2 separate regions of the Homo sapiens genome follow, and region 1 is linked to region 2. The links come from fine-mapping of genetic effects on gene expression. A gene starts in region 2. The other region holds a variant in brackets. All regions are shown on one strand. Distances are from middle to middle. Region 1 overlaps KCTD2 (potassium channel tetramerization domain containing 2). Region 2 holds the start of ATP5PD (ATP synthase peripheral stalk subunit d).

Region 1 (11,738 bases), 24 kb before region 2:
GCCAGAGGTACCACCTGTTAGCCAGGACCTAGGCCGATGCCACAGGCCCAGAGGCCTCCAGAACCATGGGCCGGTGGAGCAGAAGCTTCCCCTTTCCAAACCTGGGCATCTCCTTTCCCTCCTCCTAGCTATTTGGACATCAGAGGTCAGGGCTTTGCCAAGGGCTTGGCCACTGTGGCCTAGTGTGCATTAGGCAAAGGGGATTTTCAGAAAATGATGGGAGGATTTTTGTTGTGCCTTGAACTGCTTAGTAAAAGCCATTGCCAAATGCTTCCCATTGTGCACAGGGGACAAAGTGAGCAGTTGCCCTAGATGTCTGCCCAGGGTGTGATGGCAGCTTAAAGGAAGCTGGAGTTCCCAAGCACAGGGTTTGGGCAACTCCAGGCACCGTCCAGAAAAGGCTGCTGCTTGGCCCCACCCGCTACTTACAGCAGCATCAGTCCAGGCTTCAGGGCCAGGCCAGGATTGGGGAAGGAAAAGGGATTTCACGATTCTTTTTTTTTTTCTTTTTTTGAGACAGAGTCTTAGTTTGTTGCCCAGGCTGGAGTGCAATGGTGCAGTCTTGGGTCACTGCAACCTCCACCTCCTGGGCTGGAAAAGGGATTTCAATCCAGGCTATACAGATTGTTCTGGTCTCACTCTCAGCCATGATCCAGGGAAGTCTGGAGAAACTTAGGCTGTGCTAGATGCCTGGAATCCCATGTGTTCCAGGAAAACCAAGGCAGGAAAGTTAGGGTAAGGCTGAGCTCTGAAGTGGAGAAAGCCAAGGGTGTTCGTGCAAGCTCAAGACAGAAGACCTGGAATGGGGAGGCTCCCTGAGGCAGGGGAATGGACACAGTGATGCACCCTAAAGGCTGATCTGTGTGTGTGTGTGTGTGTGTGTGTGTGTGTGTGTGTGTTTTTGAGACGGAGTTTCGCTCTTGTTGCCTAGGCTGGAGTGCAGTGGCGCAATCTCCGGCTCACCGCAACCTCCGCCTCCTGGGTTCAAGCAATTCTCCTGCCTCAGCCTCCTGAGCAGTCAGGATTACAGGCATGTGCCACCACACCCAGCTAATTTTTGTATTTTTAGTAGAGACGGGGTTTCTCCATGTTTGGTCAGGGTGGTCTCGAACTGCCAACCTCGGGTGATCTGTCCGCCTCGGCCTCCCAAAGTGCTGGGATTACAGGCGTGAGCCACCGCACCCGGCTGTGTGTGTGTGTGTGTGTGTGTTTTGTGGTTTTTTTTTTTTGAGATGGAGTTGTGCTCTTGTTGCCCAGGCTGGAGTGCAATGCATGATCTCAGCTCACTGCAACCTCCGTCTCCCAGGTTCAAGTGATTCTCCTGCCTCAGCCTCCCGAGTAGATGGGATTACAGGCGCCTGCCACCAAGCCTGGCTAATTTTTGTATTTTTAGTAGAGGTGGGATTTCACCATGTTGGTCAGGCTGGTCTCCAACTCCTGACCTCAGGTGATCCGCCTGCCTCGGCCTCTCACAATGCTGGGATTACAGGCATGAGCCACCACTCCCGACCGAGATCTGATGTGTTTGTGGGTGGAGGGAGAGTGGAAGCTGCGATGGGGCCTGAGCCAGAGGCAGAGGGCTGGGACCTTGCCTGCAGACGTTGCTGGTCACTCTGGTTGATGAGCAGGGTGTGGAGCCAGACGCTGTCTCCTTCCAGCTTCAGGAGCCGGTTGTGGCTCTGCTGGATGGAGCTGCTCAGCATCCCCAGGGCGGCTGCTTCCTCTTTCTCCACGAAATCCAAGATCTGCATCTGCAGCTGTTTGACCTCCTGATGATCTCCGAGAAGTGGGTGTTCGCCTCACCTCGCATTGTCTGGATCAGTTCCTGGAGGTTGTGGGGTGTGTAGAGAGGCGTCCGTGAGCTCCACTCCAGCACCACCACTGTCACAGCCCGGAGCCCACCTAGGCATCCTGTCCCTGACTGCCTGGTCCCATGCCATCCACTCAGAGTCCTGGGAGGTCCCTGCAGCCTGATGCAGGGCACTGGGGAAGCCTGGGCCTGGGGTGGGGTGGGCCAACCTTACTGAGAGAAAGGCCACCCGACCCTGGTGCTTTTGGCCGTCAGCAGCGATGATCAGCATCTGCTTCCCCACAGTGTCCTGGACCTTTTGAACCTCGACCTGGGGTAAGGTGTTGGGGGAGAGGAGGAGGGGCCCCTGATTCAGAGAGGTGGCCTCAGAGAAGCCCTACTGCAAACAGGCCCATGTCCGAGCCCAGAAGAGACATCCCTCATTCATTCTTCTGCTCAGCTTAATGAGAATGAGGGTGCAGTGCTGGATGGCCCACGGCCTAGCCCTCTGCTTGGAGGGCTGCTCCCACTCCCTGAGAGCCTGTCTCTAATTCGAAGGAATCAGGTTATTTGCTCCTAACAGTGATGATCATAGGGTTTCAGGCCACAGGAAAGGGCCTTGGAGAGCTCAGGAGGCAGCAGGGCCAGAAGGGGCATAGCAGGTATACAGCCGTGTGGGCGCCCTGCGGCAGTGCTGCCAGGCCCAAGTCCCACATAAGCCTTTAGTCTCCACCTATCCCAGCAACGGGGATTTTCATTGTTATATTACACAACAGTGCAATTCCAAGTGCTGTCCATGAACCACTGCTGGCTCTTAGCAACATAAGAAGCTCATGCCAGGTTGTAAATCAATGTAGTCCTTCCTTCACTGACAAAGTCTTTTTTTTTTTTTTAAGGCAGTGTCTCGCTTTGTCCCCCAGGCTGGAGCACAGTGGTGCAATCTCAGCTCACTGCAACCTCTGTCTGCCTCCCTGGCTGAAGCCATATTCCCAGCTTAAGCCATCTTCCCACCTCAGCCTCCTGAGTAGCTGAGGCTACAAAATCTTGCAATGAAAAAAGTGTCAGCCGGGTGAGGTGGCTCACGCCTGTAAATCCCAGCACTTTGAGAGGCCCAGGGGGGCAGATCACTTGAGGTCAGGAGATCGAGACCATCCTGGCCAACACGGTGAAACCCCGTCTCTACTAAAAATACAAAAATTAGCTGGGTGTGGTGGCGCGCGCCTGTAATCCCAGGTACTCAGGAGGCTGAGGCAGGAGAATAGCTTGAACCTGGGAGGCAGAGGTTGCAGTGAGCCAAGATCACCCCATTGCACACCAGCCTGGGCGACAGAGCAAGACTCCATCTCAAAAAAAAAAAAGTATATATATATATAGGCCGGGCGTGGTGGTGCATGCTTGTAATCCCAGCTAATTGGGAGGCTGAGGCAGGAGGATTGCTTGAACCTGACAGGTGGAGGTTACAGTGAGCTGAGACTGAGTTACTGCCATCCAGAGACTCAAAATAAATAAATAAATAAATAAATAAATAAATAAATAAATAAATATGTATATATATATATATACAGTATATTAAACACAATTTGGTTTTTTTTTTTTTGAGACAGAGTCTCACTCTGTTGCCCAGGCTGGAGTGCAGTGGTGCAGTCTTGGCTCACTTCAACCTCTGCCTCCCGGATCAAGCGATTCTTGATTCTCATGCCTCAGCTACTTGAGTAGCTGTGATTACAAGCGTGCGGCACCACGTCTGGCTAATTTTATTTTTTTTGGTATATTTTAGTAGAGACGGGGTTTCACCATGTTGGCCAGACTCGTCTTGAACTCCTGGCCTCGAATGATCTGCCTGCCTCGGCCTTCCAAAATGCTGGGATTACGGGTGTGAATCACGGCTCCCAGCCTTAAACACAATTTGAAAATGGAGGCGACCTGGCACCAGTGCTCACGCCTGTAATCCCAGCACTTTGGGAGGCTGAGGCAGGCAGATCACCTGAGGTCAGGAGTTCAAAATTAGCCTGGCCAACATGGTGAAACCCCGTCTCTACAAAAAATACAAAAATTAGCTGGGCGAAGTGGCAGGTGCCTGTAATCCCAGCTACTTGGGAAGTTGAGGCAGGAGAATTGCTTGAACCCAGGAGGCAGAGGTTGCAATGAGTTGAGGTCGTGCCATTACACTCCAGATTGGGCGACAAGAGAGAAACTCCATCTCAAAAAAAAAAGAAAGGAAAATGGAGGAAAGGGGGAGAGTCACACAACCTAAAGTGATGCGCTTGGATTTTGATATGTTGATAGAGGTTTCATACATACAATTCTGAATCCTTATTTAACTCACTAGTACTTTTTATGCCACAACATGACCCTGGTGACCATGACTTTAATAGCTGCTTAATTTTCTTCCAAGGAAATGTGAACAAAATAATGTCTTCATTTAGAAATATGACTGATGGGGGCTTGGCAGGGATTACTAGGCTCCGGAAGAGGCTGTGTTATCTTCCAGCCCAACTGTCCACATTTAGAAGTGACAACATTCATGAACTAAGTCAACATCCACCAAAAATAACATAAGATAAAGCTCACCGTTTTGGAACATGAAAATGACACACACAGACCTCACCCACCAATCTCTAAGCTGGGACAACAAACGCTTGCATTTAAACTTCTCTAAAATGTCAAATTAGCATATTCTTTCCCTCCATGTAAAGTTTCAATAAACTTGACTCAATCTGCCTTTATTTTAAAAACCTTACAAAAGATGTATTTAAATCCTTGAAAAAATTAACTTTAGGCTGGATGCGATGGCTCAGGCCTGTAATCCCAGCACGTTGGGAGGCCAAGGTGGGCGATCACATGAGGTTAGGTGTTCGAGACCAGCCTGACCAACATGGTGAAACCCTGTCTCTACTAAAAATACAAAATTAGGCAGGCATGGTGGCACATGTCTGTATCCAAGGTACTCAGGAGGCTGAGGCAGGAGAATCACTTGAACCCAGGATGTGGAGGTTGCAGTGAGCCGAGATAGTGCCATTGCACTCCAGCCTGGGCAACAAGTGTGAAACTCTGTCTCAAAAAAAAAGAAAAATTAACTTTATACTGTGTGCACAAATAAATTTCTCTTATACAGCTAAATATGGTTACATACTTTGTTTAAAAAAATTTTTTTTCCACTAATGACACTTCACATGTATTTCTACATAAACTATCTTTCTATTCTTCTGGGAATGTGTCCTAAGAGCTGACAGACGGACGGTTGAAAATACCCTCACACGGCTGGGCACAGTGGCTCAGGCCTGTAATCCCAGCACTTTGGGAAGCCGAGGCAGGTGGATCACCTAAGGTCAGGAGTTTGAGACCAGCCTGGCCCACATGGCAAAAACCCGTCTCTACTAAAAATACAAAAATTAGCCGGGTGTGGTGGCGGGCGCTTGTAATCCCAGCTACCTCGGGAGGCTGAGGCAGGGGAATCGCTTGAACCTTGGAGGTGGAGGTTGCAATGGGCCAAGATGGTGCCACTGCACTCCAGCCTGGGCAACAGAGCAAGACTCCATCAAAAAAAAAAGAGAGAAAGAGAGAGAAGGAAAGAAAGAAAGAGAGAAAGAAAGAAAGAGAAAGAAAGAAAGAAAGAAACAGAAAGAAAGAAAGGAAGGAAGAAAGAAGAAAGAAAGAAAGAAAGAAAGAAAGAAAGAAAGAAAGAAAGGCCTCAACCACCCAGGCTCAAGCAATCCTTTTACCTCAGCCTCGAAAGAAAGAAAGAAGGAAGGCAGG[C/A]AGGCAGGCAGGCAGGCAAGCAAGCAAGCAAGCAAGCAAGCCTTGACCTTCCAGGCTCAAGCAATCCTTTCACCTCAGCCTCCCAAGTACCTGGGTTTATAGGTATGAGCCACCTCTCCTGGCCAAGCATATATTTTTTTCTTTTTTTGAGACAGGGTTTCTCACTCTGTTGCCCAGGCTGGAGTACAGTGGCACAATCATAGCTCCCTGCAGCCTCGAATACGATCCACCTGCCCCGGCCTCCCAAAGGGCTGGGATTACACAAATGAGCTACCACATCTGGCCGATATTTTATTTTTATTTATTTATTTGTTTTTGAGACAGAGTCTCACTCTGTTGCCCAGGTTGGAGTGCAGTGGCGTGATCTTGGCTCACTACAACCTCCACCTCCCGGGTTCAAGTGATTCTCCTGCCTCTGCCTCCTGAGTAGCTGGAATTACAGGCACCTGCCGCCATGCCTGGCTCATTTTTGTATTTTAGTAGAGACGGGGTTTCACCATATTGGCTGGGCTTGTCTCGAACTCCTGACCTCAGGTGATCTGCCCACCTTGCCTTCCCAAAGTGCTGGGATTACAGGCGTGAGCCACCACGCCCGGCCCCAGTCTTTTTTTTTTTTTAATTGGGCAGTCCTCTGAATCAGAGTAAGTTCAGAAAGATTCTAGGAAAACCATGATCTTAATGAAAGTATTTAAGTAAAAATTAAAATGAAAATATAAAACTTAGAAGCAATTTAATTGCCCTGTATAGAAAATTGATCAAGGAATTAATCTGGCTTCATGGAGTAACAGTTTACTCCAGGGGAAAGCTTTACTGATGAAAATCTTTCTGTGTGGTATGACTCTTATTAAAAATTTAGCTCTGTGCTGCCACCTGGGCTTTATGGCTGGGGAGATCCAGTGATACTGAAATTATCTCCTGCCAGTACAGATGCTGTATCAGAGCCTCCTGCAAGTCCCAACTGGACTGTGGCCATGCAGAACTCCAGGGTTCTGGGCAGGTCCATGTCCTCTTTTGCAAGTAACTATTTCACTGGGCCCTGACCGAGATGGAACACCTAGTTCATGGGACATCAAGTGACCCTGTGGCCTGAGCTGCCCGTCACCAACTAGGTGTTGTGTATTACACCAACCGAATTAGGAGTAATTAACAAAAATTTTTTTCTTTTGTAGAGACAGGTCTTGCTATGTTGCCCAAGATGGTCTTGAACTCCTGGCCTCAAGCAATCCTCTCACCTCAGCCTCCCAAAGTGCTGGGATTACAGGTGTGGGCCATGGTAACTGGCCAATTTTTTTTTTTTTTTTTAAGAGACAGGTTCTGGCTGGGCATAGTGGCTCACGCCTGTAATCCCAGCACTTTGGGAGGCCGAGCCGGGTGGATCACGAGGTCAGGAGATCAAACCATCCTGGCCAACATGGTAAAACATTGTCTCTACTAAAAATACAAAAATTAGCTGGATGTGGTGGCACACGCCTGTAATCCCAGCTACTCGGGAGGCTGAGGCAGGAGAATCGCTTGAACCTGGGAGGCGGAGGTTGCAGTGAGCCTAGATGATACCATTGCACTCCAGCCTGGGCAACAAGAGTGAAACTCCGTCTCAAAAAAAAAAAAAGAGAGACAGTGTCTCACTCTGTCTCTCAGGCTAGAGGGCACAGCTCACTGCAGCTTTGAAATCCTTGGCTCAAGTGATCCTCCCACCTCAGCCTCCTGAGTAGCTGGAACTACAGGCATGTGTCACCACGCCTGGCTAATTAAAAAAAAAATTTTATAGATGGGGCCTATGTTGCCCATCCTGGTCTTGAACTCCTGGCCTCAAGCAGTCCTCCCACTTCAGCTTCCCAAAGTACTGGGATTCCAGGTGTGAGCCTGGCAATTAGGAGCAATTAACATAGCTCAGAAATAGTGACTGTCTCTGAGACAGGGATACAATGACTTGGCACTTCGTGTTTATTTTGGAGGGAAGGAGAGATTATTTTTGCTTGTAGAAGGGTAGTTGTATCTTGTTCCATGGAGGCATGAAGTTGTTTTTTCACCACGTTTTTTTTTCTTTTTTTCCGAGTCGGAGTTTCGCTCTTGTTGCCCAGGATGGAGCGCAATGGCATGATCTCGGCTTACTGCAACCTCTGTCTCCTGAGTTCAAGCGATTTTCCTGCCTCAGCCTCCAGAGTACCTGGGATTACAGGCACCCGCCACCACGCATAGCTAATTTTTTTTTTTTTTTTTTTTTGAGACGGAGTCTCGCTCTGTCGCCCAGGCTGGAGTGCAGTGGCGCGATCTTGGCTCACTGCAAGCTCCACCTCCCGAGTTCACGCCATTCCCCTGCCTCAGCCTCCCGAGTAGCTGGGACTACAGGTGCCCACCACTACGCCCAGCTAATTTTTTGTATTTTTAGTAGAGACAGGGTTTCACCGTGTTAGCCAGGATGGTCTCCATCTCCTGACCTCGTGATCCACCCGCCTTGGCCTCCCAAAGTGCTGGGATTACAGGCGTGAGCCACCGCGCCCAGCCTAATTCTTTGTATTTTTAGTAGAGACGGGGTTTCATCATGTTGGCCAGGCTGGTCTCAAACTCCTGACCTCAAGTGATCCACCTGCCTTGGCCTCCCAAAGTGCTGGGATTATAGGCATGAGCCACCACACCCAGCATTTTTCACCATCCTATGCAAGTTCAAGTATGTGCAGAAGCATGTACATGTGAGGGGAACCAAACAGGTGGACTGAGCCAGTCACCACATTGTTGTCTCTCAGCCCCAAACCCACCCTCTGAACTCTGCTCCGAGCCACATTTTCCCCCTCCTAGCTCAACCTGGTAGGACAGGCTGAGGGAGACTGCAAGACGAGAGAAAAAAAGGAGGGACGATGTATTTCCTGTTGTGAGCCAAACCACAGAACACTGCTGTGTGCTGGCATAGCTGATTCCAGGAGTGGTGCTGGTTTCTTGGTGGTTTCTCTACCCTCTGAGAGGCAGCAGCTGCCACTGGCCAGCACGTCCTTCTCCATTGGTCCCCTCCTCTTGAATCTCCATTTTATTTTGAGACACAATCTCTGTCACCCAGGTTGGAGTGCAGTGGTGTGATCTCAGCCCACTGCAACCTCCACCTCCCGGGTTCAAGCAATTCTCGTGCCTCAGCCACCCAAGTAGCTGGGATTACAAGCATGTGCCACCATGCCCGGCTAATTTTTGTATTTTTAGTAGAAACAGGGTTTCACCATGTTGGCCAGGCTGGTCTCAAACATCTGACTTCAAGTGATCTGCCTGCCTCGGCCTCCCAAAGTGCTGGGATTACAGGTGTGAGCCACCACACTTGGCCTTATTTTATTTTTAGATTTAATTTTACATAGAGACAGAGTCTCACCACGATGCCCAGGCTGATCTCACACTCCTGGGCTCAAGCAATCCTCCCAGCTTGGGCCTCCCAAAGTGCAGGTGAATCTTTTTTTTTTTTTTTTTTTTTTGAGACTGAGTCTCGCTCTGTCACCAGGTTGGAGTGCAGTGGCGTGATCTCTGCTCATTGCAACCTCTGCCTCCCGGGTTCAAGCCATTCTCCTGCCTCAGCCTCCCGAGTAGAGTAGCTGGGATTACAGGCACCTGCCACCATGCCCAGCTAATTTTTATATTTTTAGTAGAGACGGGGTTTCACCATGTTGGCCAGGATAGTCTAGATCTCCTGACCTCGTGATCCGCTCGCCTCGGCGTCCCAAAGTGCTGGGATTACAGGCGTGAGCCACTGCGCCCAGCCCTTTTATTTTTTTGAGGCGGAGTTTTGCTCTTGTTGCCCAGGCTGGAGTGCAATGGCGTGCTCTCGGCTCACCACAACCTCCACCTCTCAGGTTCAAGTGATTCTCCTGCCTCAGCCTCCCGAGTAGCTGGTCCGGCTAATTTTGTATTTTTTAGTAGAGATGGGGTTTCTCCACGTTAGTCAGGCTGGTTTCGAACTCCTGACCTCAGGTGATCCGCCTGCCTTGGCCTCCCAAAGAGCTGAGATTACAGGTGTGAGCCACCGCGCCCGGCCAAATCTCCACTTTAATAATCCCAATGTCTTCCCACTGTTCTCAGGTCCCAGGAGTGAGGACTGCACCCTGCAATCCCTACATTGTGATGCCTCAGTGTCCACTCCTGCCCTTTCCTTTCTCCACTACCAGTTAACAACTGCTGTGGTCTCAATTGGACCCTGACGGATGCACCCACGCATCCTGTTCACTAAGCTGTATGAGTCCATTTTGTCTCCCTACCTGAAAGTGCTGTCTGGAAGGGACTAACACCTTCTGAGTTTCCCATGCCCCGCCTGATGCTGAAGTGATCAATACTTGTTTGTTGGTTGTCACCAAACGTTCCTCACTCATCCTCTTCCTTGTACCTAGTCACTCACTCTCTTCCAGAAAGACTTGTCCCTTAAAAACCATCTCACGGCCGGGGATGGTGGCTCATGCCTGTAACCCCAGCACTTTGGGGGGCTGAGGCGGGAGGATCACCTGAGGTCGGAGTTCGAGACCAGCCTGGCCAACACAGCAAAATACTGTCTCTACTAAAAATACAAAAATTAGCCAGGCGCGCAGGCAGGCGCCTGTAATCCCAGCTACTCAGGAAGCCGAGGGAGAATTGCTTGAACATGGGAGGCAGAGGTTGCAGTGAGCCGAGATTGCACCACTACACTCTAGCCTGGGTGACAGAGCGAGACTCCATCTCGGGGAAAAAAAAAAAAAAAAAAAATCTCACACTCCTCCCCTTGTCTCTTTCCAGCTCTCTGGTGGGCAGCCCATCCGTCCCACCTTCTGTTTCTCTGCATTCTCTGGGTCTTTTCAGATTCAGTAAAATGAAAGGGAGGAGGGAGAAGGCCCAACACCCCCTTTGGTGGTTTCAGTAGCAGGAGAAAAGGACTTAGTCAGCTGTCCTGGTAGGAAAGGTAGTTAAGTCATCTCCTGAAACCCATGTGAGAACCATCGACAGGAAGTGACAGTGGGAACCAGGAGACTGCAGTAATGGAAAACACACCACAGTTCTTGAGATTCAGAAGTTTCATATCTTTATTCACACAAAAAAAGTCACAGCATTTCAGACTATTCAAACACACAAACAGGAACAGAGGGTGCCCACCAGTGACAGCCTCGTCCCTAAGTCTGGATCAAAGGCCACGCTGGAGGGTGGGGTGTCCTCTCGGGCCTCCTCTCTCAGCATCCCGTGGCTCCCTGCTCCCAGCCTCACTGACATCCCCAAGAGCAGTTACAACTGTGCAGAAACAAAGTCACTTTAGAGGAGGCTGGGCCCCACCTCATTGCCATGGAAAAAGGCCAGATTCTGAGGAAAAGACAGAATCAGTGCTACTGTGTCATCAGTTGGGGGATGCTGGGCACTCCTGGGCCTGGCTGGCATCACCTGCGTCCCAGACCTGGGGCAGAGAAAAAGGCAGGACCCTCCCCACTTGGCAGTACTGGGCAGCAGAGAGTGTGGGTCACTGGTCACGTGACAGCCCCAAACTGCCACGCAGACCTCTCTGATGTGATCAGCCAGACACTCAGAGGGCACAACGCTTTCAAGCAAGAACACCAGCCTGGTTCCTAAAGGGGGTGGGTGAACAACGCTCCCAGAAATCTTAAGAACCCAGAGTCCTGGAGCGCTGGAACAATACAGGTGTCATTGGGTTGCAGCGAGGAGGGAAACTTGGTGAACACCAGCCCTCCGAGAGGGCGGAAATACCACTCCTGTCTATTTCCCAGAGCACGTGCCTGTGCCTTGGGGCTCAAGAGCAGTCTTTTCATGGCGGCAACTATGGAATCTAAGAGGAATGAAGGAAACGGCGCCCTCAGGAGGTGCTCAACATTGGTGTCTGACCCCCAGGCCTCCTTGCTGAACCTGGTGAGAAAGCTGGGGTTGGTCTAGGAGCTCCAGCCCACGCTGATCAGGCATGCCCCAGGAAAGCAGACAGGGACAAGCGCCTCAACGAGACTGGGCACAAGGCCGCAAACCAAGCTGCTTTTCCTCTGTCAGTCTGATGTTACTCATTGGACCTGGCCAAGGAGCGCCTCTTCCAAAGTCCTCCATCCTACCCGGCTCAGAGCAGTCCTTCCCGTGATCACTACTTTCCTTGGCTACATCTAACTTTTTTTTTCTCTGAAAGATACGACTGGATGGATGCCTGTGACTCTTGAAGGGGTGGCTGCTTTTACTGAGGACGGCAGTTCATCTAACACTTTACAGC
Region 2 (11,738 bases):
ACCACCACACCCGGCTGTTTCTATTTTTTCCCCCCGCCCGAAACAGAGTTTCATTCTTGTTGCCCAGGTTGGAGTGCAATGGCATGATCTTGGCTCACTGCAAACTCCGCCTGCTGGGTTCAAGAGATTCTGCTGCCTCAGCCTTCCAAGTAGCTGGGATTACAGGCGCTTGCCACCACGCCTGGCTAATTTTTTGTATTTTTAGTAGAGACAGGGTTTCATCATGTTGGTCAGGCTGGTCTTGAACTCCTGACCTCAGGTGATCCATCTGCCTTGGCCTCCCAAAGTTCTGGGATTACAGGCGTAAAGCCACCGCACCCAGCCAATTTTTGTATTTTTCGCAGAGACGGGGTTTTGCCATGTTGGCCAGGCTGGTCTCAAACTCCTAACCTCAAGTGATCCGCCCACCTTGGCCTTCCAAGTGTTGGGATTACAGGCATGAGCCACAGCTCCTGGCCTAAAAACTGCATTATTTAAATGCAAATCCAATCTCTCTCCTTCTGCTAGGAAATATCTCTTTGCTATTTTCGGTAAACCCATGACCTTTTCTCCAACATAAATTAGTCAAACGCCAGGGTATGTTCTGCTCACTCCATTTCAACCCTCCTTTCCCTACCTGGCACCTGCCCATTAGCTGCAGGACACTTTTCCCATATGTCACTTAGTTCCTGGAACTAGTCATGTTGGACACCTCCTGAACTTGATATTTTTGTCCAATCTGCCCTCAAAAGGACTGGGGGTGGGGGTGGAGGTGTGTGTACAAATTTATGTGGGCCAAACTTAATAGGATGCTAATCATTTGAACAATATAAAAGGCAACCATTTAAAGACTTGCATGCTAAATGAACTCAAAGGCCTTAGGGCAACTATGAGACGTGTGATCCTATAGGAATAAATTTGCTATAAAGGCCATTATTAGGACAACTGACAAAACTGCAATATAAGCTGTAGATAAAAGCATCAGTATTAAATTTCCTGAGTTTGATAACTGTACTGTCTGTGGTTACATAAAACAGTATCCTTGTTCTTGGGAAATATATACAAATATTAAGGGGTGAAATCTGCAATCTATTCTCAAATAGTTCAGAAATAACTGTGGTGGGAGAGGCAAGAGGATGGGGGTAGGGAGGGGGAAATAGAGAATGAAGGACAATGCAAATATGATTTAAAAAAAAAAAAGGTCGGGCATGGTGGCTCACGCCTGTAATCGCAGCATTTCGGGAGGCCAAGGCGGGTGGATCACGAGGTCAGGAGTTCAAGACCAGCCTGACCAACATGGTGAAACCCCCGTCTCTACCAAAAATAAAAAAATTAGCCAGGCGTGGTGGCATGCACCTGTAATCCCAGGTACTCAGGAGGCTGAGGCAGGAAAATCGCTTGAACCCGGGAGGTGGATGTCGCAGTGAGCTGTGATAGTGCCATTGCACTCCAGCCTGGGCAACAGAGGGAGACTCTGTCGCCAAAAAAAAAAAAAAAAAAAAAAAAGGTCGGGCGCGGTGGCTCATGTCTGTAATCCCAGTACTTTGGGAGGCTGAGGCAGGCAGATCACAAGGTCAGGAGATCGAGATGAGACCATCCTGGCTAATATGGTGAAACCCTGTCTCTACTAAAAATACAAAAAATTAACTGGGTGTGGTGGTGGGCGCCTATAGTCCCAGCTACTCGGGAGGCTGAGGCAGGAGAATGACGTGAACCTGGGAGGTGGAGCTTGCAGTGAGCCGAGATTGCGCCACTGCACTCCAGCCTGGGCAACAGAGCAAGACTCCGTCTCAAAAAAAAAAAAAAAGCTGGGCATGATGGCTCATGCCTATAATCGCAGCTACTCAGGAGGCTGAGGCAGGAGGAGCATGTGAGGCCAGACATTTGAGACCAGCCTGGGCAAGATAAGATAGACTCTGACTCTTAAAAAAACAACAAAAAGATCTCCCCATACCCCAAATATGACAAAAATAACATTGAAAATTGGTTAATCTGGGATATAGGGAGTTCTCTGTGTTATTCTTGCTCTTTTCTTGCTTATTTTGAAGTTTTAAATTACTTCAAAATAAAGTTTTTTTAATTAAAGGCATTAGAAAAGATACTTAACTAAAAGAGGGTAATTGAATTTTTGTATCACAAAGGATAAATGCTTGAGGGGATGGATACCCCATTCTCCATGATGTGCTTATTTCACACTGCATGCCTATATCCAAACATCTCAGGTCGGGCGCGGAGGCTCAGGCCTGTAATCCCAGCACTCTGGGAGGCTGAGGCAGGTGGATCACTTGAGGTTAGGAGTTCAAGACCAGCCTGGTCAACATGGTGAAACCCTGTCTCTACTAAAAATACAAAAAATTAGTCAAGCATGGTGGTGCACGCCTGTAATCCCAGCTACTTGGGAGGCTGAGGCAGGAGAATCGCTTGAACCCAGGAGGCTGAGGTTGCAGTGAGTCAAGATTGTGCCAGTGCACTCCAGCCTGAGCGAAGAAAAAAAAAAGAAAAATCTCATGTACCCCATAAATATATACACCTACTAGGTACTTACAAAAATTAAAAAAGAAAAATAAATAAGATTAAGATCACCCATGAGTTGGTAATTGTTGAAGCTGGATAGTGGATGCAAGGAATTCACTGTATGTACTATTCCCATTACTTCTGTATGCGTTTGAAATATTGTTTAAAAAGGGACATTTAAAAAAAGAGAGAGAGAGCAATTCCTCTTTCTACTAGCTGAAACAGAGTTGTTTCACAGTCACTTCATTAACTAGTACAGCCATTACAAGCTTTCTTACTCAGAGCCAAAGCTCCCAGATCAGGGTGCCCTGGATTTAGGGACAGTCCCCTTTACAACTGAATGCCTTCAGTGGGACCATGCCAAGCCTTGTAGAAAGTGGACTAGACCCACTTATAGTCCCAATGCCCTACAAACCACAAAGATGAGGCAAGTAATGATACACCTGACAATGAACTAGAGAATGAATTAGGTCAGCTGCAAACATTTACAGGGAAGCATGAGGCCAGAGTCTTAAAAGAAATGAGGCCAAGCCTTTATTATTTTTGTACAACTGTGAGTTCAAACCAAAATTAAAACTATAAATAATTGAATGTCAGAGATGTCTTGCTTCTTCAGACTACAGACACTCACTGCTAGCACACAAACAAATGTAAAAAAAGGATCGTGACAATTCTGGAGATTCGGAAAGAACTCCTGAAGTTATCTGCAAAGCGGAGCTACCTATCTTCCTTCTCACCCAGGAAGCTGAACAAAGCCTAAGGAGGCTTCCTTAATCATGACTCCCTCAGACAAGACTGGTAGTTTCTGCTCTGTTTCATAAACCTGAAACTATACCTGCACATGCGCCTGATGAAAATGTCAAACAAAATTGAAATCTGTAAAACAACTTTAAAGATTCTACTTGCATTTTGAAAATCCCCAATGCAAACAGTGCGCTTACCTTCTTCTGCCAACTCCTTAGTGATGATGAGTTTCCCGTGGCGGAGGTAGTTGAGGATAGGACCAAAGTAGGTGGGGTCCCTGTCAATCAGATAGGCTCCTGTCTCATCCTGCCAACCAAACACAAGGGTATCATTGTGGACCTTTGAGGAGTATTTTAAACAAAGGCAGGGCAGGATTTCACCATCTTTGTCAGCGCCCCAAGACAACAATTCATTCCATCAGCTAAAAAAGACTTTAGTGATGGCAAATTTTGTTACACATTTGTCACAAACTATTGGTAAGAAAGCTATAGCTTTATGTATCTTGTACATTAAGATCATCTTAGGTAGGGTGTTACAGACAGTCATACTCATTTAGGCGTTTACTTACTGGCTGGAATTTGCAATCTTTGCCTGGACAATAATTACAGTGACAAACATTCTTCTGTAGCGTGTTTGTTATTAAGAAAGGGAGAAAATGCCGTAGCTGTGTAACTGAAATCTTTGCTTGAGATGGACATTCTGACTTTTCCACTGCCTCTGAACTGCATTCCTAATTCCAAGAAAACCTCTGTGTAGTTGGCAATGCTCCTGAGCTCAAGGCCAACATCAGTGGGAGTTTGCACTGCCAGCTGTAATCTCACACACCCCAGCTCTGTGCCCAGAGGAAGCTCGGTACTGCCAGGACTTGGCTCTGAGCAGCTTTAATCCTACTCATCTTTACAGTAAAAGGAACAAGAAGAAACTGGCTTCTATTACCACAAGGAGGATATAGAGTAGATAAAAATAATTCCTTTATAAGCAAGGGTTTTGAAATCTCTTTAAAGTTAGGGCAGGATAGGTTTCCATCAATCTGAGATTTCTTAGAGAAGAGGAATAAACGAAAACAACAAATGTTTACGCAACTCCAGCTCTGTTTTGAGGTCACCAGCTGAGTGCTATATGGGATATAAGATGGTGTGAGTTATGGTCAGTGCCTTTAAGTTGAGAACTTAAAGGTGAATACGTAAAGTTAAAAAGAAATTGACACAGTTCAAACTGGAAATGGTTTAAGTGTCTTGTCACCTCTCAACCCTTTGGTTAGCAGCCATGCATCCTGCCCAAAATTTTCCCGGGAAAATTTTCATTTTCCTTCTGTCTTAGCCTAGATTTGCAGCGGCAAACAGTAACCTCTTTCCAAAAAACGCATTTGATCTAAATATGGACCTAAACCAGTGACTGTTAACAGATAAAAGTTCTGCGACCAGGACTATAGAAAAGCAGTGTGATATCACAAGGAGCGCTTCCTGCAGCTGTGGAAGCCCAACTTGGCAGAGGGGTCCGAGAGGGAGTCTGAGAAAGCTACAAGGATGCCTGAGCTAACCCTGACCCAGTTCTGGATGCATCTGGCACCGGCAGTGGGGGGACTGAAGAGGAGCCAGGGAAAACTCATGCAGATCTCAGTGGGATGTCAGGGGCAGAGAATATGGAGAAGGGGTGTGGAGTGCGTTCTCGTGGGTGCAGGTGGGCGCAGTGTGGGAAGGAGTCTCAGAGAACGAAGGGCGGGGTCGGGGAGAAAGCCAGAGTATGCCTCAGCATGGAAGAAGGGGAGTGGGAGGTCCCTCTGAGGCCCCTGCGAGTAGTGTGGGAGGGAGGGGGAGGATGGGGTCCCGGCCTGAGGGGGCTGCCTGTGAGGAGCGTGTCTCAGGACTCTGGGGACCGATCTACGAGAAACCAGGGGGTTCGAAGGCCCGGGGGCGCGCCCGAGGGCGGGGCACACCTTGTCTGAGTCCAGCTCCGGGTCCTCCTGGCAGCAGAGGCGGCAGAGAAATGACTTGGGCTCCCGGCCTAAGGTCTGTCTGGTGGTCACGAAGTAGGTGCCTCCCACGTTCAGCCTGACCCAGCGGGCCGCGCCGCCGCCCCCTGCCCGCTCGGGTGGTCCGGGACCCGGCTCCAGCGGCTGCGCGACGGCGGCAGCCGGGCGGCCGTGCCCGCGGGGCGTGGGGCCAGCCGGGCGTGGGCTGGGGGGCCCGCGGACTGGGCCACCCCCGTCGCCCACCCCACTCCCGCCGCCCCCTCCCAGCCCCGCCATCGCCGGGTCCAGCTGCAGTTCCGCCATCTTGGACCGCCGCCGCCACCGCTGCTGCCCGCGCGCAGCCGGGCCGGCCCATTTCTCGGCAGGGAGAGCCGGGCCGGCCCATCGGCGGGGGTGGGGCAGAGGGGAGAGGGACGGGAGCGCCCCCAACCAGCGCCCGGGGACCCGCGCGGGGGAGGCGCTGTGCCCGCCCCCGGGAAGATACTTCCGGAACCAGCCCTCATCTCTATTGGCTGATCTGCGAAGCAAGGCCCACCCCCTTGGCTTTGGGGTTGGCTGAGGAAAGATCTTCCCGTGACCCACTTCCGTTACTTGCTGCGGAGGACCGTGGGCAGCCAGGGTCGGTGAAGGTGAGTGGGGCTTGGGGCATTGGATCCGATCCCTGGAGGGCTCCTCTGCTCTGCCCTCTCCAAACCTCACGCCGACCCTTGTCACGCCCCCGTCAAGGACGCTGGGCCCTCGGCTTGCCCCGCTGGCAGAGTGTCCCTTGTGTAGCTGCCGCTCCTCGCCCCGCGATCCCTTCCTCAGCCCTCCTTGGCGCGCGGGGTCAGGGGGGCCCGGCTGTGTCCCAGGCGCCGCTGATGTAGGCGCTGCCACAAGCCGTGTCTCGTGCAGTCCGCTCCCAGCGCGGCAGACTTCAATAGTTTGGTGGGGGGACTGGGGAAACATTACGCAGACAGTGTTAACCTGCCGAGGGACGCTCAGCTGGCTGCGGGGCTGCGCCCTTCCCCTTCGGCAGCTTCCAGGATTCGAACGTATAGAGCGTTCAGGGCTCCTCGGGTGCAGAGTTCGGTTACTCATTCAAGAAAGATTCATTGAGCACCTCCTATGCGCATGATCTGTTCTAGGCGCTGGGGATTAAGCAATAGATTTTTAAGAATTAAAAAAAATTTCGCCGGGCGCGGTGGCTCACGCCTGTAATCCCAGAATTTTAGGAGGCCAAGGCGGGCGAATCGCGAGGTCAGGAGTTCGAGACCAGCCTGGCCAACGTAGTGAAACCCCGCCTCTACTAAAAATACAAAAAATTAGCTGGGCGTGGTGGAAGGCCCCTATAATCCCAGCTGCTCGGGAGGCTGAGGCAGGAGAATCGCTTGAACCCGGGAGGCGGAGGTTGCAGTGAGCCGAGACCACGCCACTACACTCCAGCCCAGGCGACAGTGCGAGACTCCGTCTCACTCACACACACACACAAAGTTATTTGTGACTTCCATTTTCCACTGATGTTGCGGGAAATCAGGGACCCCAAACAGAGAGACCGGCTGAAACCATGGCAGAAGAACGTGGATTGTGAAGATTTTATGGACATTTATTAGTTCCCCAAATTAATACTTTTGTAATTTCTTATGCCTGTCTTTACTGCAATCTCTAAACATAAATTGTAGAGATTTCATGGACACTTATCACTTCCCCAGTCAATACTCTTCTGATTTCCTATGCCTGTCTTGTCTTTAATCTCTTAATCCTGTCAGTTGAGGATGTATATCGTTCCAGGACCCTGTAATAATTGTGTTAACTACAAAAATTGTACAGCATGTGTGTTTGAGCAATATGAAATGTGGGCACCCTGAAAAAAGAACAGGATAACAGCAATTGTTCAGGGAACAAGAGAGAACCTTAAACTCTGACCGCCGGTGAGCCGGGCAGAACAGAGCCATATTTCTCTTCCTTCAAAAGCAAATGGGAGAAATATCGCTGAATTCTTTTTCTCAGCATGGGATATCCCTGAGAAAGAGAATGCGCACCTAGGGGTAGGTCTCTGAACTGGCCCCCCTGGGGCGTACCTGTCTCTTATGGTTGAGACTGCAGGGGTGAAATAAACTCCAGTCTCCCATAGCGATCCCAGGCTTATTAGGAAAAGGAAATTCCCACCTAATAAATTTTGGTCAGACCGGTTGATCTGAAAACCCTGTCTCCTGATAAGATGTTATCAATGACAATGGTGCCCAAAACTTCATTAGCAATTTTAATTTCGCTCTGGTCCTGTGGTCTTGTGATCTCACCCTGCCTCCACTTGCCTTGTGATATTCTATTACCCTGTTAAGTACTTGATGTCTGTCACCCACACCTATTCGTATACTCCCTCCCCTTTTGAAACTCCCTAATAAAAACTTGCTGGTTTTTGTGGCTTGTGGGGCATCACGGATCCTACCAACGTGTGATGTCTCCCCCGGACGCCCAGCTTTAAAATTTCTCTCTTTTGTACTCTGTCAAGCCAGTCGACGCTTAGGAAAATAGAAAAGAACCTATGTGACTATCGGGGCAAGTTCCCCGATACACTGATGTTTGGGAAAGTCTGTAAGGGTGCTTGGTTCCCTGGTAACTTTAAAATCACATGCCAATTGCCTTAACACCTCCCCTCCACAACAGGAAACAGGCTGTCCTGAGAAAGAAAGGAAGGACAGGACAGGTGTTTGACAACTTTCTTGAAGATCCTGAGAAAGACTGCTTCCGCCTCCCTTGCATTCCACTCCAAGCTTATAGAGATTTTTGACTTTGCAGTCTTTTAATATCTGACCCTGATCTTACTTAAAGAGGACTATTTTCCTATATTCTGACTTTTTTTTTAAGTGGCTGTAGTCGTTTTCTGTATTTTTCTCACATTTTCACATGTGTTGAATACCTCTTAAAATGCAGGCCGGGCGCGGTGGCTCATGCCTGTAATTCCAGCACTTTGCAAGGCTGAGGTGGGTGGATCACCTGAGGTCTGGAGTTTCAGCCCATCCTGGCCAACGTGGAGAAACCCTGTCTCTACTAAAAATACAAAAATTAGGGCCGGGCGCGGTGGCTCACGCCTATAATCCCAGCACTTTGGGAGGCCGAGGCGGGTGGATCATGAGGTCAGGAGATCGAGACCATCCTGGCTAACAAGGTGAAACCCCGTCTCTACTAAAAATACAAAAAATTAGCCGGGCGCGGTGGCGGGCGCCTGTAGTCCCAGCTACTCGGGAGGCTGAGGCAGGAGAATGGCGTGAACCCGGGAAGCGGAGTTTGCAGTGAGCCGAGATTGCGCCACTGCAGTCCGCAGTCCGGCCTGGGCGACAGAGCGAGACTCCGTCTCAAAAAAAAAAAAAAAAATACAAAAATTAGCTGGGTGTGGTGGTGGGTGCCTGTAATCCCAGCTACTCCGGAGGCTGAGGCAGGAGAATCGCTTGAGCCTGGGAGGTGGAGGTTGCAGTGAGCCAAGATGATGCCACTGCACTCCAGCCCGGGGGACAGAGTGAAACTCCATCTCAAAAAAAAAAAAAAAAAAAGTGCACAACGTGTGCTGGTGCTGCTAGGGTATAATCCGATGTGAATAAGAAGGTGCAGGTGTATTACCAATCTAGTTGGAAGGGGATAGCCCTTTTAAGTTTGTAAAACTCTGGAGCAAGTTGCTGTGCACAATTTCATGTGACACTTTTAGCAGCCCTCTGGGGCAAGCAGGACTGATAATGCCCATTGTACACATAAGTAAATTTTAGCCTAGAGAGTGCTCTATTTAAGGCTTGTTGAAACTTAGGTGTGTGTCAGTTTCTGTCTACTGGAGAATCAGTGAATAAAACACAATCTGGGTGGAAATGTCTTTATTAACTTTTATGCAATAAGAGTGTTATTTTTAGTAATTTTTCCAGAGGCACATGGAGGGGATAAAGAGAGCTGGGGTTTGTTTTTTTTTTTTTTTTTGAGACAGAGTCTCACTCTGTGTCCAGGCTGGAGTGCAATGGCGCTATCTCAGCTCACTGCAACCTCCGCCGCCCAGGTTCAAGTGATTGTCCTGTCTAAGCCTCTTGAGTACCTGGGACTACAGGTGCATGCCATCACGCCCGGCTAATTTTTGTATTTTTTAGTAGAGGCAGGGTTTCACCCTATTGCTCAGGCTGGTCTTGAACTCCTGACCTCAAGTGATCCACCCACCTCAGCCTCCCAAAGTGCTGGGATTACAGAAATGAGCCACTGCGCCCGGCCAAGAGAGCTGGGCTTTTAAGGCTAAATAGGAGTTGGGAGAGAATGTATTTGTATGCCACATTGCACACTTTGAATTTGAAAAGCTACACTGTCCTTTCCTTTTCTTTTTGAGACGGACTCTTGCTGTGTTGCCCAGGCTAGGGTGCACTGATGCCATCTCAGCTCATTACAACCTCTGCCTCCTGGGTTCAAGTGATTCTTATGCCTCAGCCTCTGGAGTAGCTGGGATTATGGCGCGGGCCACCACGGCTGGCTAATTATTGTATTTTTAATAGAGATGGGGTTTTGCCATGTTGGCCATGCTGGTCTCGAACTCCTGACCTCAGGTGATCCAACCGTCTTGGCCTCCCAAAGTGCTGGGATTACAGGCGTGAGCCCACTGCGCCTGGCCGCACACCTTGAATTACCTTGAATTTGAAAAGCTACACTGTCTTTTTTTCTTTTTTTTTGAGTTGGAGTCTTGCTGTGTCTCCCAGGCTGGAGTGCAGTGATGCAGTCTCGACTCACTGCAACCTCCACCTCCTGGGTTCAAGTGATTCTTGTGAAGACTTGCATGTTTCTAAGATTTAAAGGATTCTCTCTAAGAGCTCTTATTTTGTTATTTATCATTTTTCCCAACTGAAAATTCACCTCATAAAAAAGCCTTGTTTTTATTTGACTTATTTTTCAGGATCCCAAAATGGCTGGGCGAAAACTTGCTCTAAAAACCATTGACTGGGTAGCTTTTGCAGAGATCATACCCCAGAACCAAAAGGCCATTGCTAGTTCCCTGAAATCCTGGAATGAGACCCTCACCTCCAGGTCAGTATGTTTCTGAGAGGGAACCCCATACTTGCCACTGAATCTAGAAACAAAACAGTATTAAGGAATTACATATGAATTCTTGATGCCCTTATGACAACATATAAAGAAATCCTTGCATTTTCATGATGATCTTAGGAGAGGAAAGTGTGGTGACCCTCCAGGCCATAGGAAGAAGGGATAGGAAAATTACCATGTGAATTTTCTACTGCTTATGAACAATCCTAACTTTTGCCTTTCCTTGTGGGCAGGTTGGCTGCTTTACCTGAGAATCCACCAGCTATCGACTGGGCTTACTACAAGGCCAATGTGGCCAAGGCTGGCTTGGTGGATGACTTTGAGAAGAAGGTGAGACTTCACACCTCTAAAGCACTGAGCTTGTAACATGCCTGTGGGTAGGGAGCAGGAACAGGGATAATTACATACACAGCATGACAGCCAGATCCCTAAGGAAGCTTAGGAAGGATGCGTATGGCCAAAGGCCTTGTGGTCGATTGAACTGTAAATAGGTGCAGGAATTTAGGCTCTGTTCATTCAGCAGTAGAGTGTAGCCTTAATCTGGGAGCCAGAGGGCTTTCTGATCAGCACAGGAGTTTTGACCTGCTCTGTTTCTGACCTGGGCCGGTTCACCCCTTCTTAGGCAACCTGGTGGTCCCCCGCTCCTGGGAGGTCACCATATTGATGCTGAACTTGGTGAAGACACCCGATCGGCATAACGCGCTACAGCCCAGAACTCTTGGGCTCAAGCAATCCACGTGCCTCAGCCAGGCATGCGCCACCACGCCCCAGGGGGCTTTCAAGTTAAATGTTTGCCCACCTCCTGGGTTCCTTTTAGCTTCCTTCCTGTCTCCCTTTGGAACAAACTGACTTTTTTTCTACTCTTTTCCTGTCCTTTTTCTTTTGAGACGGAGTTTTGCTCTGTCACCCAGGGTGGAGTGCAGTGGCGCAATCTCAGCTTACTGCAGCCTCTGCCTCCCAAGCTCAAGCCATCCTTCTGTCTTAGCCTCCTGAGTAGCTGGGACTACAGGTGCATGCCACCACCACACCTGATAAATTTTCGTTTTGTTTTTTTTTTTTTTTTGGTAGAGACAGGTTTTTGTCATATTGCTCAGGCTGGTCTCAAACTCTGGGCTCAGGCAATCCACCTCTCTGCTCTTCTTTTTTTTTTTTTTTTGAGTTGGAGTCTCACTCTGTCACTCAGGTTGGAGTGCAGTGGCGCCATCTCAGCTCACTGCAACCTCTTTCTCCCGGGCTCAAGCCTTCCTCCCACCTCATCCCCCCGAGTAACTGGGACCACAGCACCACCATGCCTGGCTAATTTTTTGTATTTTTGGTAGAGACGGGGTTTCGCCATGTTGCCCAGACTGGTCTCGAACTCCTGAGCTCAGGTGATCCACCCTCCTTGGCCTCCCAAAGTGCTGGGAGTACAGGTGTGAGCCACCATGCCCAGCCTCTGCTTTTTTTAACTGTCCCTTATAGCTGTAATTTCTCATCCATCTATCCT

What was found. PIP is the estimated chance that this variant, and not a neighbour inherited with it, causes the effect.
Region 1: its variant is fine-mapped to the expression of ATP5PD in whole blood (INTERVAL, PIP above 0.99).

The regions. Positions count from the first base shown.
Region 1 is chr17:75,064,691-75,076,428 of GRCh38, reverse strand. KCTD2 (potassium channel tetramerization domain containing 2) reads right to left here. Exons shown (of 6, transcript NM_015353.3): 6 at 10,543-11,738. It also overlaps the pseudogene TRIM80P. Among named protein-coding and RNA genes, the nearest start is that of SLC16A5, 17 kb to the left of the region's middle. RefSeq lists an enhancer at 8,528-8,597. The variant C/A (reference allele first, on the strand shown) is at 5,546.
Region 2 is chr17:75,041,025-75,052,762 of GRCh38, reverse strand. ATP5PD (ATP synthase peripheral stalk subunit d) reads left to right here and starts at 5,794. Exons shown (of 6, transcript NM_006356.3): 1 at 5,794-5,838; 2 at 10,104-10,234; 3 at 10,486-10,582. The coding sequence starts at 10,113. KCTD2 (potassium channel tetramerization domain containing 2) reads right to left here and starts at 5,538. Exons shown (of 6, transcript NM_015353.3): 1 at 5,174-5,538; 2 at 3,435-3,543. The coding sequence starts at 5,512. It also overlaps the pseudogene RN7SL573P. RefSeq lists enhancers at 5,555-5,849, 5,734-6,319, 6,258-6,327, 10,926-11,496 and a silencer at 5,428-5,857.